Regions from separate parts of the Homo sapiens genome. Here region 2 is linked to region 1. The links come from fine-mapping of genetic effects on gene expression. A gene starts in region 1. The other region holds a variant in brackets. All regions are shown on one strand. Distances are from middle to middle. Region 1 holds the start of VNN1 (vanin 1). Region 2 has its middle 21 kb from the start of VNN1.

Evidence for each region.
Region 2: its variant is fine-mapped to the expression of VNN1 in whole blood (INTERVAL, PIP 0.97).

The regions. Positions count from the first base shown.
Region 1 is chr6:132,711,260-132,716,646 of GRCh38, forward strand. It overlaps VNN1 (vanin 1), which reads right to left and starts at 2,796. Exons shown (of 7, transcript NM_004666.3): 1 at 2,567-2,796; 2 at 450-580. The coding sequence starts at 2,776.
Region 2 is chr6:132,731,997-132,737,383 of GRCh38, forward strand. It overlaps the pseudogene VNN3P. Among named protein-coding and RNA genes, the nearest start is that of VNN1, 21 kb to the left of the region's middle. The variant G/A (reference allele first, on the strand shown) is at 2,741.

The DNA of each region.
Region 1 (5,387 bases):
ACCACTTAAAATCCTGCCATATCACCTCTTAGATTACAATCAGCTTACACTTTAAGGACTTTACTACATTAACCTCATCAGCTATCTTAGCAATGAGAAAGGAAAACTATTAATCTTAAACTGATGTGACTCTCTTTTGCCATTTACTCATATAGTTTTCAAATCACAGACCTACACAGGGAAATATTTTTCTGTTCACTGGTGAGGAGTCAGAGACCAGAGATGTTCACACTGAATGTGATGATTTCTAAGCTACTTTCTAGCTCTGACTTCTGTGACTTCATAATTCATATTTGCTCTCCCAGTAAATATACCCATAGTAGATGAAAAATAAGCTATACTGAAACTTAAGAATTGATCATGGATCTATGCAATGATCATCAACAAAGTTTTCCCAGGTAAATCAAGTTGATGTTTACTAGTGAATTTTTCACAAGTTGTTTCTTTACCTGTTACGATTATTACAGGGGATCCAGTTTACTTCAGGGTCTGGGATGTCCTCCAAATATGGGTAGAGAGAGTCCCTGTTGAAGTTCCAGCCATAAATAGCATCTTCTGGAGTCACAATAATATGCGCACCCTGTTAAAAATGCAACTTAATCCAAAGGGGGGCCTGCAAGAGGAGCTGAGGAGCTGAGTGGCTGAGTAACAACTATTTGGGCTTCCCCCACACCCCTTAAATCTTATTTTGTTTTCTATATTTTTATAATTTATTTTCTTTTCCAAAGCATTTTAATTTCCTTTTTTTTCAGTGCACTGTCACTTCTTTTTCTTTTTCTTTTCTTTTCTTTATTTCTAATTTTAGATTCAAAGGGTACAAATGCAGGTTTGTTGCATGGATATGTTACATAATGGTGAGGTTTGGGCTTCTAGTCAAGCATTTTTTTTTCTCTCTTTTTTTTTTTTTTCAGATGGAGTTTCGCTCTGCTGCCCAGGCTGGAGTGCAATGGCTAGATCTCGGCTTACCACAATCTCCACCTCCCGGGTTCAAGCGATTCTCCCGCCTCAGCCTCATAAGTAGCTAGGATCACAGGCATCTGCCACCACGCCTGGCTAATTTTTGTATTTTTAGTAGAGATGGGGTTTCTCCATATTGGTCAGGATGGTCTTGAACTCCCAACCTCAGGTGATCCGCCTGCTTCAGCCTCCCAAAGTGTTGGAATTACAGACATGAGCCACCGCACCTGGCTTAGTCAAGCATTTTAATTTTCTAATCCTGCCATTGTTGTTTCCTATGGCAGTCGTTAACTATAAACCTAGCTTATCCTGGAACCAAGCCTCTCCTTGAACTTTCGCTGATGACTGTGCCTGTGTCAAGACTGATTAATAACTTAAATATTCTGTTTATTTCCTCCTCTGCCCTAGCTTTCCCCTGCAAACATGATTCCTGCTTCTCAGAAAAAGAGGAGCCACAAACTGGTTACTTGAACTGTCCCATGCCTACAAGTACTGCCTGAGCTAACCTGGGCACCTTCCAATTAGAGAGTCACCTTAAAAAGCTCTGTGACCTTCAAGGAAATAGTTGGACTAAGGATGAAAAAGAACATCAGAACTCCTGATAACCTTTTAAATATTAGTATATATAAGAATATAGGGCAGTCACGGTAGCTCATGCCTGTAATCCCAGCACTTTGGGAGCCCAAGGCAGGTGGATCACCTGAGGTCAGGAGTTCAAGTACAGCGTGGGCAACATGGCAAAATCCCATCTCTACAAAAAATACAAAACTTAGCTGGGCACGGTGGCATGCATCTGTGGTCCCAGCTACTCTGGAGACTGTAGTGGGAGAATCACCTGAGCCCGGGAAGTCAAGGCTGCAGTGAGACGTGATCACACCACTATACTCCATCCTGGGTGACAGAGTGAGACCTTAACTCAACAACACAAAAGAATATATATTTATAGATATATGTAATACACATTTATCCATGACTTTTATCACACTTCATGTATTCCTGGTCTACACCTAATCGATCAATAGCTTTTAAAATAATATTTGTGTAAACCACAATTTATACTGTATGATTAACTTCAAACTGAAACCTTCACTAAACTTAAGGACTCACAATGCATTACATATACTTTTATCTTGTAATTAGAATGAAGTGTGAAGTATATAATGCATGCTGGCAAGGAATTGAAAACTTAAATTTGTTTTCAGATTATAAATTTATTCGAAAACCTGCAAAGCCTTAATAGCACATGAGTACATGAAGGCCACTAATACTCTGAAAATAGCACCTAGTCCCTGACCCATTTATCCTCCATCCTCCATCTGTACCAGAAAAGGGGAACAAAGATGTTGAATTTATGGCCAGTTCCTCAAAGGTCTGCTGCTTCTTGATAATGAGCAAATTGTTCTTTTCTTAACTTTGTTCTTACTTTTAGGGAAGTCCTTGCTCTAATTTTGAGAGGAAAGTAGAATTCTAACTGTAAAATAAAGGTTCTTGGCTACTCTGATACATATATCATCTAAAAGTGTAACTGACCCTGACAGTGGCCCTGTCTCCTAGGACCCCCTCCTTTCTCATAGAATCCAGTACACTGGAGAGATGGTAGAGATGGTACCTGATCTGCTGCTGATGTGATCGCTCCTTCCAAAATGTCCAGATTCCGATTCATTAATGCCAAAGCCTCCTCACGAGACACTGGTGTTAGGGTGGCATTGGGCAATATCGCTGCATGCTCATAAACAGCTGCAGTGAAAGTGTCCTGGCAGCTGGCTCTTGAGACATAGAAAAGCAAAATTGCCACGTAAGCTGGCAACTGAGTAGTCATGCTGAAGTCCAATGAGTGCTGAAAAACAGAGCATGTCCTGGTATTTATAGAAAGAAGACACGTGGTGTCCAGAACTTAGTACCTTAAACTACGGAAGTTAATTAAGAAAACGCTATGATTTCATAGCATTGTTACATAACAAAAGACCCTACCTTATTGCAGTAATTTGTGAAGATTAACTCAAGAACTCTATGTACATTAGTTCGCTAGGGCTGCCTAACAAAATACAATAAACTGGGTGGTGTAAAAAATAAAAAATTTATTGCTTTGCAGTTCTGGAGGGTGGGAGTCCCAGATGAAGGTGTCAGCAGAGTTGGTTCCTCCTGAGGGCGGTGAAGGAAAGATGTGTTCCAGGCCTCTCTCCTTGACCCATAGATGGCTGCCTTCTCCCTGTGTCTCTTCATATGCTATTCTCCCCATGTGTGTGCCTGTATCCAAGTTTTCCCTTTTTGTGAGGACACCACTCTAATCTTTAACACAGGGAAAGGGAAAATCCCAGCTCTAGCTTTTTTTGTCATCGTTGTTGTTTGTTTATTGTTGTTGTTGTTTGAGATGGAGTTTCACTCTTGTCACCCAGGCTAGAGTGCAGTGGCGAAATCTCGGCTCACTGCAACCTCCGCCTCTCGGGTTCATGTGATTCTCCTGCCTCAGCCTCCCAAGTAGCTGGGATTACAGGCGCCCGCCACCACGCCAGGCTAATTTTTTGTATTTTTAGTAGAGATAGGGTTTCGCCGTGTTGGGCAGGCTGGTCTCAAATTGCTGACCTCAGGTGATCCACCTGCTTTGTTTTTATGCCAAATAAGGGCAGAAGAAAAAAGCCAACTGAAGGTCATAAACCCAGGGGTACAGGCTCACTGAAAGACTGAGACTCAATCATAGGACCAATTCGATTTAGTGCCCACTGTACTCCAGTATAACTTCATCTTAACTAATTAGATCTGAAATGACCCCTTTTCCAAAAAAGTTACATTCTAAGATACTGACAGTTAGGACTTCAACATATAAATTTTTGGAATTCATATATTTTGGAATGTCAACACAAGACATTCAAATAATTTTAAAACTTTATTATTATTTTCATGTGAATATTTCAGCTCTACACTTTGATTTACTTTATTTTCCTCAAAATGGGGAAGCCAGGACAAAGAGGAATACAAAAGAGTTACTCATTTTCTATTGCTATATAACAAATTATCCCCAAATTCAGCAGCTTCAAAAAGCAAAAATACATCATCTCCCACTTTCTCTGGGTCAGGAATCCAGGGGCAGTTTAGCTGGTGCCTCTGGCCCAAGGTCTCTTTCACAAGGCTGCAGTCAAGCAGCTGCCAGGGCTAGCTATATCAAGGCTTGACTCCAGGAGGATTCACTTCCGAGCTCCAAGCTCCCTCATGTGGCTGACGGCAGGGATCAAGACCTCATTGGTTGTTGCCCAGAGACATGAGTTCCTAGTGATGCAAACCTCACCATAGGGCAGCCCGCATTATGGTATCTGGATTCCCTTAGAGCCAGACAGCAAGTGAACCCACTGGAGATGGAAGCCACGGATGCTTCGTAATGTAATTGGGGAAGCAACACCTCATCGCTTTTGTTGTATTCTATCCAATAAAGCATTAGGAACCATCTTTGAAGCTGCTTATCACAGAGGCAACAGAGGTGTATAAAGAATCAGAGCAAAAAAAAGAAAAAATGAGCTGGGGAGCGAGATCCAGAGAGAGGAGAGGGAAATTATATAAAATAGAAAAACTGTTCATAGATTTTGATATTGAGTAAGCTGGCAAATTTTGTTTCAGTTGTGCATTAAGTATAATATTTACAGAATTAGTGTTTATGTTTTTCCATTTTATTTTTAGATCTATTTGTCTTTGAATGGTATTTTTATAGTTCAATCTGCAAACAGGCATATCTAATTTTTTACTTTAGTAACTATAATGCATTTATTCTGCAATTGCCAAGGTAACCCAGGGGTTGTGGTTGGCTGGTTCTCCTGAGTTTCCGGTAAACACCAGCTTCTCTAACTGCTTGCTGACCTCTTAGGGCCTTTCCATGCCCAGGTGGGTGGGAATACCACATATTTCACAAAAAGATGTCATTATTATGTAACAATTTGTAAAAGGAAGCACTGAAATAAAAGTTAAAACTGAGATGAGTTGGCAAGAGGTTAAAAAATTACTTCTTGACCTTCTTAGATTAAAAATATTAAACCTCCCGTGGAGTTTCTAGTCCAACTCATAAAGAGCTTGGCAGTCATTTTTCCCATGCTCACACCAAGAAAAAAGCTAAACAAATGAAAATCGACAACTTTTCTAGGATGCATCAGAGAATTGAGATCACAGGATAAACTGCGGTCCTCAGAACTGCAGAGATAGGCAGATACAGAGGTTAAGAGTGTACTGCGAGCAGAGTCCTCTGCGGCTGGCGCCAGTACCGTGGGTTCACTTGAACTGTAATTGACGAATTGGTGGAGGCTCAGGGTGGACAACCTTGAGAGTTCTGGTCTGTTCTTCTTAACAAAAGCCTGCCCTCAAAGTAAAGTATTTTACCAGAGCCTAACCTACCTAGGGGAAGGAAAAATGCCAACCCCAGCCACTCTAATCTTTAACTTGGGGAAAGG
Region 2 (5,387 bases), 21 kb after region 1:
CAGGCTGGAGTGCAGTGGTGCAATCATAGCTCACTGCAGCCTCAAACTCCTGGGCCCCAGTGATCCTCCTGCTTCAGCCTCTCGAGTAGCTGGGATTATAGGTGTGAGCCACCACACCTGGCTAAATTTTTTATTTGCCGAAATAGGGTCTGGCTTTGCTGCGCAGGCTGGTCTCAAACTTCTGGCTTCAAGCAGTCCTCCTGCTTTGGCTTCCCACAGTGATGGGATTACAAGTGTGAGCCACCACGCCTGGTCACACCTACTATTGTTGAAAGACAATTGCAACAAATAACCAACTAGTCATCAGTATCTCAAGTCATTTACCAAACAGGAGATATGCCAGATGATATACACTATGAAACATAAGCAGTATCTGCAGATTCAACACTATTTCTTTTCTTCTTTTTTTTTTTTTTTTTTTTTTGAGACAGAGTCTCACTCTATCGTTCAAGCAATTCTCATGCCTTAGCCTCCCGAGTAGCTGGGATTACAGGCACACACCACCACACCCAGCTAATTTTTGTATTTTAGTAGAGATGGGGTTTTACCACGTTGGCCAGGCTGGTCTCAAACTCCTAATCTCAAGTAATCCACCTGCCTTGGCCTCCCAAAGTGCTGGGATTATAGGCATGACCCACAGCACCCAGCCTCAACACTATTTCTAACATACTACCAATGTCATTTTTTCACAGATTTATAAACAAAATTTCTAAAATTCATATGGAACCAAAAAAGAGCCTGAATCGCCAAACCAATCCTAAACAAAAAGAACAAAGCCTGAGGCATCACATTACCCAAGGCTACAGTAATCAAAACAACATGGTACTGTTAGAAAAACAGACACATAGACCAATAGAACAGAATAGAGAGCCTAGAAACAAAGCCGCACACCTACAGCCATCTGTAGCTCAAACAAAGTTCACAAAAATAAGTATGGGGAAAGGACTCCTTATTCAACAAAAGGTGCTGGAATATCTGGCTAGCCATATGCAGAAGATTGAAACTGGACCCCTATCTTTCACCATGTACAAAAATTAACTCAAGATGTATTAAAGATTTAAATGTATGACCTCAAACTATAAGAATCCTAGAAGAAAATCTAAGAAACACCATTCTGGACATGAACCTTGGAAAATAATTTATGACTAAGTCCTCAAAAGCAATTGCAACAAAAACAAAACTTGACATGTAGGACCTAATTTAACTAAAGAGCTCTGTACAGCAAAAGCAACTATCAACAGAGTAAATAGACAACCTACAGAATGGGAGAAAATATTTGCAAACTAGGCATCTAACAAAGGTCTACTATCCAGAATCCATAAGGAACTTAAATCAATAAGCAAAAACAAAACAAATAACCCCATTGAAAAGTGGGCAAAAGACATGAACAGACACTTCTCAAAAGAGGACATACAAGTGGCCAAAAAACACGTGAACAAACACTCAACATCACTTATCATCAGAGAAATGCCAAGCAAAACCACAATGAGATATCATCTCACACCAGTCAGAATGACTGTTAACAAAAAGTCAAATAATAAAAGATGCTATGGAGAAAGGGGAACACTTACACACTATTGGTGGAAATGTAAATTAGTTCAGCCATTGTGGAAAGCAGTTTGGAGATTTCTCAGAGAACTTAAAACACAGCAACCATTCGACTCACAATCCCATTACTAGGTATATACCCAAAGGAAAGGAAATCATTCTACCAAAAAGACTCGTGCACTTGTATGTTCATCGCAGCACTTTTCACAACAGCAAAGATATGGAATTAACCTAGGTGCCCACAAGAAGGAACAAAATCATGTCTTTTGCAGCACCAAAGGACATTATCCTCAGCAAGTTAACACAGGAACAGAAAACCAAATACTGCATGTTCTCACTTATAAGTGGGAGCTAAGCATTGGGAACTCATGGCCATAAAGATGACAGCAATAGACACTGGGAACTAATAGAGGGGAGAGAGAGAGAGGAAGGCAAGGGCTGAAAACCTTCCTGTTGTATACTATGCTGGGTGGTGCAATCATTGTACCCCAATCCTCAGCGTCATGCAATTTGCCCATGTAACAAACCTGCACATGTACTCCCTCAATCTAAGCTAAAAGTTGAAATTACAGGGAAAAAAAAGCATCTACATCCTATGCCACAGATTGACTATTTATCAACACAATTACCAGTCAAATTCAGTGAGTTTACTGTTGGTGTTTTACCAAATCACAACTTTTTGTTTAGAAATTAATGATATGATATTACCTCCAGGGGTCTCTACATGGAATCCAGTTCACTCCAGGGTCTGGTATATCCTCTAGATAGGGGTAAATGCTCTCCCTGGTGAAGATCCAACCATAGATTCCATCTTCTGGGGTCACAATGATATGTGCACCCTGCTCGAAACAAGTGGGGCAAAAAAGTTTGTCATGAATTCCAAATACTCTTTGACCAAACTGCAAGTCTCCTTTACAAGTATAAAAGGGTAATACCTGCTTCGCTGCCAGCTTAACTGCTTTCTCCAAAACATCTATGTTCTTGTTCATCAGGAGCAAAGCTTCTTCTTTTGAAACAGGTGTTTCTGTTCTGTTTGGTAATATCACCGCATGCTCATATACTGCAGCAATAAAAGTGTCCAGTGCACCAACACTCAGAGCAAGGAGGGCAAAAACTGCCACACATTTTGGAAAATGTGATATAATCATAACTAAAATTTAGTGATCTTTGAAAAACAAACTCAGATTCTTAC[G/A]TTTTGTTTCACTGGAAAAACTTTACATTAAATCCCTCCTGGCAATCAGCTGTTTATATTTTCTTGCACATATATTACACAACACAGCATTGAGAAAGGATGTTGTGCAAGAAAACTGACAGCCAGGACGTAATTGGATTGATTCAAGTGTACAGTGCAGTTGTTGACATTGTTCAGAGTCAAGTCAACACTAAAAGATTGAGCCAACCAGATGAATTCACCCCAGTCCAAAACACACTGGCAGTTGAAGTCTTTTCTAATAAAAAAAAATTTTCCTGGTAAGCCAACATTTCTATTAATAGGGCCAATATTGGAAGGTAGTCATCATAGCAACAATTTGTTGAGCACTCTACTTACATATTTGTATGGCCATTTCTATTTGAAAAGCCCTTGTTCTCCATCCGTCTAAGTTCCAGCTCCCCCTAGAGTCCTCCCAAATCCACTCCAGTCCTAAGTGATATTTCTGAACTCCTATAGCATTTTTTTCTGTGCTGCTGAATGTCTCTCACTCCTTGCTGTTGTCTTGACCTTTAATTTAAATATTATACCAATACTTAATATTATATATGTATGTTTTGTCTTCTTAAAGAGATTAAAAAGAAACTTGCTGTTTTCTTTCAGAACATCCATGTCCAATAAACATCTAGACAGAGATGATGTATCCTGGGATGTGGCCCCTGGAGGGTAAGGGAAGTGTCCTGCTCACTGTTGAACCTCATCACCCCAGCACATGTGTGACAGATGGTGAAAGCTCAATATATGAATGAATGTTGAATGACGGAATCTACTACCTGATGGGCCAGTCTATTCCACCTTTGAACATTGCCAATTTTAAGAACATTCTTGTTATTGAGATGCAATTTACTTTACCTGTCTTCTACAGTTTAAACCCGCTTCCATATGAAGACTAATCAATAATTCAAAAAGTGTTAAGTTCTCCTTTAATTCTTTTATTTTTTAAACATATCATCCTTATAAGTCCCTTAAGGGCAGGGTCACATTATAATTCTCTGCTGCTTCTATAGAATTTTATACTGTGCTAAGCTCTGTAAATGTTTTTTGATTAGTTAAATTCACTTCCCTCGCCCAATTTTGGATTGAATCTCCTTGTTTGAATATCAGTTAATTTAAAATGTAGAATTTTTTTTAAGGTTTAAATCTCTGATTCTAGAACAATTAACACTGCTTCTCCCTCTTGAGATTCTTTCTAAGATCTAAGGAAAATTGTAAGTTATGGAGATTTGTGTCTATTTTGGGTTTGGTTTGTTTCTATAATTCAAAGTCCCTTGGTTTCAATAAACTTTTCCATTATCCAAATATTTCTGCTCCCAGATACCCCACAGTGTTTCCATATGTCCTTATGCCCTGATACCATTTCAGGAAATAAGGACATATGAACATAAATTCAGCCCTAAATTCTGAGTTTATGTCTGACATAAATTGTTTTCATCAGACATCAGACATAAGTTCTTTTCCAAAAAAATTTCTGAGGAGAAGAGGGAAACTATGTAAAACAGATGGATTGATCTGGGATGAGAAGAAAATAATTTTCATATTTCAAGTTGAAATTCTAACTCTTTTCTTGGTTCACCTGACTTTCTGAATAGAATCAAAAGGAAACATATGGGAATTCCCCTTCATTCTCCCAGCCCCTAGTTCCAGGAAATGTACCAGCTTTTTTTGTGTGTTGAAATCAATAGAAACTTGAGTTAAATATTTGATTACCCAATGTTGTTAGTAATGTCTTTGCTTCCTAGGTGTATAAGGCGTGCAGCTATGAGTTATTTGAAACACTGTATTGGTACATAATCCTTATGACAGTCTGGCATTATTGTAGGATTAAGAAGTTTAGAGTCAGAAGTTTTGTATTACAATAAATATAATTCTTCTTTTAAATATGTAAGGGACACATCTTAAAGGAGAGGTGCTGTAATAAAATATCTAAGAGTTTACTGGCTTTCCCCAAATCTTTATTTCTAAACTCATTGTAAAACCTCCTCTCCATTCTCCTTATCAAGTTCCTGACCCCATAAATAAGAATTCTTTCAGGCTCTCCATCAGCCTCTCTGATCCCACTCCTCCCACCCTAACCCTCAATACTGTAATCCATTAGAGTTCCCTTGACCATTGCTGTCATTAATTAAGATACTTCCCATGCATATATTGAATCAAAGCAGACAGTAAGAGCCTTCTTTCTCTTGGTTCCATTTTATATTTTGTGTTCTTAGCTAAAAGTACTCTTCTTATTGTAACATGATCACTGTTGCTCTGATCCTGGAATGATTCTGACCAAATCCTGCCTTTCGAGCTCAAATCCATTGCCTCTCCAGTCTTGTTGCTATTCCCTTCTCTAAACTCTTAATGCACTTATGGCCAGTAGCCACATTGTTGTTCACTGTCTTTCAGTCCCTTACTCTACCCTCTCCCCTGGCCCCAGGTTTTTTTCTACTTCATACCTTCAACTATCTTCTACAAAAGGATAATGACTGTGTCTCTATCTTTAGCTCAAACTTCCGTTCTGAACTTCAGGCCTATTTATCCAACTCAAAAGAACTCCTTTCCACAAGCTCCCACCAAGTATCAACCCACCTGCCAGCCATTTGTACCTGTAAATTCTGCCTCCCCCCATCCTTACTGTAAATGACTC